Regions from separate parts of the Homo sapiens genome. Here region 1 is linked to region 2. Evidence: fine-mapped expression QTL. Tissue or cell type: whole blood. Region 2 holds a variant in brackets; the other region holds the start of a gene. All regions are shown on one strand. Distances are from middle to middle.

Region 1 (2,500 bases), 100 kb after region 2:
CAGTGAGAAGGGATCCGGATGGGGGAGCTCTGTACAGAGGGCTGGTGATTGTAAAAATTTCTTTTGTAAAGTAGAAGTTGGGGGTGGGGTGGGTGCTGGCTGCAAAAATTTCTGGCTTCTCTTACCCCTATTGCCCCCGGCAATAAATTGTTTCTATATGCCAGAGCCATGCAAAGTTCTTGGTGGGGAGGGGGAAAGGGCCCATGCTGGCTTAGGGGCTCTAAGGCGCCCAGACTCACAGGTGCTGTGAAGAGCTCCTTTATTGGGGTGATGGAATCGGTTCCAAAGAGCTGGTTTACTGCTGTGAAGGGATCGCAGCTTTGAATTTCAAGCTCTGGTTCTCAGTCCTCGGGCACCTGTGCGTGAATCTGCAACAGGAGTCGCCTCTACTGTTGGACTTGTAAGACAGGGCGGCAAGCTGGCCCCCATACCCGAGGAAGGACCCAGCTGTTCAGAATAACCGCTTCTAGACATGCTAGGAAGAGTGGTCAGGGAGCTACGCTTCCCACACACTACCCAGTAGAATCCTCCAGGCTCCGTCTGCGCAATTGTGCTCCCCAGCCCATCCACCCGGGGGCAAGACGGAACTCCTCGTCTACTCACCGCTGCCGCAAGGCTGGGCCAAGTTAAGGCCCCACGCACTTTGGCATCCGGGCCAGGGATGGTCTCCAGACCCCACAGGGTGAAGCGGCTGAAGTTGGCAGTGGCTCCAATGAAGCGGTCCTGGGGAAGGGGCCTGGCTCAGCATCGGGACTACAGCTCCCGCCCGCACCCCCTTTCAACCCTATCCCTTTGCTCACGAAGTCCCGCTCCAGCGGCTCCTCCTCTTGGTCGTCAGTCCCGGAATCCCGCAAGGGGTCTGGCTTCCCCATCGACACCTTCTTCTCTTCTGTCACCATCACGTATCCCACGAGGCCAGGCGGCACCGCCACCTCCTCTCCCCGTAGACAGCGGCCCCGAAACGACACTTCGAGTCCTGGAGCGGGAGGCGCAAAGGGCCTCAGGCAGGACCCACGCTGGGTCGAGCCCGGAGCTGCCCTCCCGCCACCTCCGGACGGACCACGATCCCCAGGAGCCCAGGCGATGAGAAGCGCGCAGGCCGGCGCGGGGGCTGCCGGGAGCCGTAGTCCGGCCGCAGGGCTCACCCTCGGGGCCCTGGCGGATGGCGGGCGTGAAGAAGCGCCCCACCGGGGCGGGCCCGTCCACCGCAACCTCGCAGGGCAGCAGATGCAGTGTGGCGGGTACGGCGTCGCGCAATGTGGCGGAGCGCAAGTGGACGCGGTGCCTCTCGATGGCCGCTTCGTCGCCGCTCTCCATCCTCCCTCCTACGCGACGCCAGGGCTCGCGAGCTGACACTGAAGCTGGCGCGGAAAGCGCGCAGGACCTCTCAGGAAGCCTCCGCGGGGCCTCACGGGAAGCCGCCGCGGAGCTTCACGGGAAGTGTAGTCCCCTTACCCCCTAACGCTTTCCCTGGGTTCAAGTCCTAGGGTTTTCCAGTTGTGTTTTGTTTTTTTCCTTCCTTCCTTCCCCCCTCCCCTCTTTCCTCCCTCCCCTCTCCCCCTCTCCTTCCCCCTCCCCCCTCCTTCCCCCTCCCCCCTCCCCCTCCTCCCTGCCTCCCTTCCTTCCCCCCTTCCCTTCCCTTCCTTCCCGTCCTTCCCTCTTTCTTTCTTTTTCTTATTTATTATTATTTTTTTTTGACAGAGTCTCGTTTTGTCGCCCAGGCTGGAGTGCCAGGCACGGTCTCAGCTCACTGCAACCTCCGCCTCCCGGGTTCAAGCGATTCTCCTGCCTCAGCCTCCGGAGTAGCTGGGATTACAGGCGCACACCACCATGCCCACCTAATTTTTGTATTTTTAGTAGAGACTGGGTTTCGCCATGTTGGCCAGGCTGGTCTCGAACTCCTGACCTCAGGCGATCCTCCAGCCTCGGCCTTCTGAAGTACTTGGATTACAGGCGTGAGACACCGCCCCCAGCCGGGTTTTTTTCTTTTATTGTTTTTAATGGCACATGTCGTTGTAAAAATCTAAAACGATTCTGAAAAGTACTCTTTTTATATTGATTAGTAGGTAGGTTATTCATTTTTAGTTTATTAGGGACATCAACCCTTTTCTTAAATGCATTGAAAATGTTTTATCTGTGGTCTGTCTTGCAAACCTGTGTAAAGGTGATTTTTGCTGGACAAGGACTTATTTTTGTGGTTGTTTGGTCTTTTAGACAAGGTCTCACTCGCCTAGGCTGGAGTGCAGTGGTTTGATTGGCTCACTGCAGCCTCGACCTCCCAGGCTTAATCCATCCCCCATCCTCAGCTTCCTGTGTAGCTGGAACCACAGGCCTGCGCCACCACGCAGCTAATTTTTGTATTTTTGGTAGAGGTGGAGTTTTGCCATGTTGCCCAGGCTGGTCTTGAACTCCTGGACTCAAGTGATCTGCCCACCTTGGCCTCCCAAATCACGCTGGAATTACAGGCGTGAGCCACTGCACCCAGGACAAAGACTAATTT
Region 2 (2,751 bases):
GGTCGTGACGTACGAGGTCCAGCATTAAAGGGGGCGGGCCGAGAGGGGCGTGCTTCGGTAGTGCAGAACTCTCGCTGCTACTAGGGGAGTCCACGCCTCCACCTTTTCCCCGCCTCCTGTAACTCATTGGAAGAGCTGTGCGCCAATTACTTTGCCGTTACCCAATGGCTACTCAACTGTCTCTTTGGTTCCGCCCAGTCGTCTACCCTGGGTTGGCAACGCCTGGGTCTACGCATGCGCCCAAACGCTTTTACGCTCGAACTTGCTTTAGTCCTGGAGTCTGCGCACGCCCAAAGGGCACCCCTCGCGTCCTACCGCGCCATCACCTTTCTGCGCTTGCGCATTCATGCCGTCAAGTTTTCCTTTTCCGGGTCCCAATTGGAATCGTTGGGCGCATGCGCCACTGCAGGCTGGCGGTTCGCGGCTCCTTCTTCCGGCCTCCTCCTTAGGCCGGCACCAGCAGAAGCCGGGCGAGCGCGGAGCCCCAAGCAAGTGACCTGCGACCCCGAAAGTGGACCCCAGATCCTGGGGTTCTCCCTGGTCCGGAGACTAGGGAGCTGTCGCCTGCACCCCGGGAGCACCCACCCCACGACCACCTCTGGATGCCGCCGACGGGTACCCGGCCCGTGCCCCGCGCCTGCCTGCCGGCTCGGCCCCTCGGAGCAATTCTGGGCCAGGAGTGGGGACCCGGACCCCGCCCCTGATGCAGCCCCACCCCCGCGTCCGGGCCTTGCACCACTGACTGTCCCGGCCGGCCCCGCCCCCTGCTCGCACCCTCGCGCGGCCGAGCCCCCCTCCCCCGCTGGGGGAGGCCATGGCGTGAGCGTGAGGCCGGGCCCCGGGGCCCTCAGGCGCCAGACGGGGCATGGGCCGGGGGCCGCCCCCATGAGGGTCCCGGGAGGGGGGGCGCGGGCAGCAGCGGCGGGGCCATGGGGTCGCAGGTGTTGCAGATCCTGCGCCAGGGGGTGTGGGCCTCGCTCACCGGCGGTTGGTTCTTCGACCCGCACCAGAGCACCTTCTCCAACTGCTTCCACCTCTATGTCTGGATCTTCCTGCTCATCTTTCCCTTCTTACTGTACATGGTGAGACGCCACGGCCACCTGTAACTCCAGCCGGGAGAGGGAGGGCAGCCTGGCAGGGATTCAGGGCAGTGCCCTGGGCTCTGGGACGTGGAGAGAGAGGAATCACTGCAGAGTTTGGGTCTGTGTGGAAGAGGGGCCAAAGTCTTCCTTTCTTGGATCGAGTGACCTTGAACCCTACACTTAATCTCATCCAGCTAAGCAGAATACAGAGCCCTTTGTCGAGGTCTGTGTACTGGTTGTGTGGAGAGGTGATGAAATTTTCTTGTGAGTCTGTGAATCCCAGCTATGA[T/C]GTTGATGGCAGGTACATCCTGTGGGGGCGAGGCTTTGTGAAAAGGGACCTGGCTTACTTTCATCTTCAGGTCCTGCCTCCCAGCTTGATGGTGGCCGGCGTGTACTGCCTCGTGGTGGCTGTCATCTTTGCTACTATCAAGACTGTCAATTATCGGCTTCATGCCATGTTTGACCAGGGCGAGATCGTGGAGAAGCGCAGCTCTACCATGGGGGAGCTGGAGGAAGAGCCTGCCCAGGGGGACAGCAATCCACCCAGGTGGGTGGGGTAGGGGCTGTGCTGGGGATTGAGGGTTTTTGGTGCCTGGGCCGGAACCTTGCAGGGTGGAGTAGGGGCTTAGGGAACATTGGCTCTCTGAGTGATTGTGAACACTTGTCCTGTGTTAGCCCTGGAATTGTAAAGTGACTTCTGAAAAAGAAGCAGTGACAAAGATGGGAGGAAGTAGCATACACAGAGGAGAGGTTAGCTCAAAGCTGCTGCTCTTTTTCACCGCCAGGGACCCCGGAGTGGAGATGACAGTGTTCCGGAAAGTCAGTTCCACACCCCCGGTGCGCTGCAGCTCCCAGCACTCTGTGTTTGGCTTCAACCAGGTCTCGGTGAGTGGGCCTGGACCTCAGCTTGTCCTCCTGTCCCTCTGCGAGCCAGTCCCTACTGTGGGTGCATCCTGAGCCTACTTCTTGCCTTGTTTGTTCCTTCATGGCTCTCTGTCTACTCAGGAGCTGCTGCCCCGAATGGAGGACTCTGGGCCCCTTAGAGGTAGGTGGCTGCTCTTCAGGGTTGGAGCATAGTGCTGTGGAACAGGGGCTGGCGTGCTGTGCCAGGGGGTCCTGCTGACACCTCTGGGGCCATGGTTGCAGACATCAAGGAGCTGGTGCGGGAGCAGGGCAGCAACAATGTGATCGTGACTTCTGCCGACCGAGAGATGCTGAAGCTCAGCTCGCAGGAGAAACTGAGTGCGTGGGCCTTATGGGGCCGAGGCTTGTGGGCTAGACCAGCTGTTTCGTTGTTGAATCCCCTCAACTTTGGCTCCATCCTGGGTCTCCTCTGTATTCCTCTGTGGGACCTCCCCAGTGTGCTGCTGTGGCTGGGCTCTCAGGGAAAGTACAGGGCATAAGACCTCCCTTAACCACTAGTTTGTTTTGCAGAAAACCCTTTTTTCATTTTCTGTTTCCCTTTATTTTGGCAGTTGGAGACCTTCCCCAGACGCCTCCAGGGGCTGTCCCAGACCCCTCTCTTGCCAGTACAGACTCTTCAGAGCCTTCTCCCCTGGCTGGAGATGGAGCGCCCTGGAGTGGGAGCAGCATGGCTGACACTCCCATGAGCCCCCTGCTGAAGGGGAGCCTCAGCCAGGAGCTGAGCAAGAGCTTCCTGACCCTGACC

Evidence for each region. PIP is the estimated chance that this variant, and not a neighbour inherited with it, causes the effect.
Region 1: RNASEH2C starts here. The variant in region 2 is fine-mapped to the expression of RNASEH2C in whole blood (INTERVAL, PIP above 0.99).

The regions. Positions count from the first base shown.
Region 1 is chr11:65,719,442-65,721,941 of GRCh38, forward strand. RNASEH2C (ribonuclease H2 subunit C) reads right to left here and starts at 1,357. Exons shown (of 4, transcript NM_032193.4): 1 at 1,146-1,357; 2 at 801-976; 3 at 604-723; 4 at 1-368. The coding sequence starts at 1,317. The coding sequence ends at 342. KAT5 (lysine acetyltransferase 5) reads left to right here. Exons shown (of 13, transcript NM_182710.3): 13 at 1-163. RefSeq lists a silencer at 1,043-1,282 and an enhancer at 1,433-1,502.
Region 2 is chr11:65,615,383-65,618,133 of GRCh38, forward strand. It overlaps PCNX3 (pecanex 3), which reads left to right and starts at 394. Exons shown (of 35, transcript NM_032223.4): 1 at 394-1,082; 2 at 1,442-1,629; 3 at 1,868-1,967; 4 at 2,088-2,127; 5 at 2,229-2,324; 6 at 2,558-2,751. The coding sequence starts at 930. RefSeq lists enhancers at 1-18, 299-448, 459-508 and a silencer at 639-888. The variant T/C (reference allele first, on the strand shown) is at 1,372.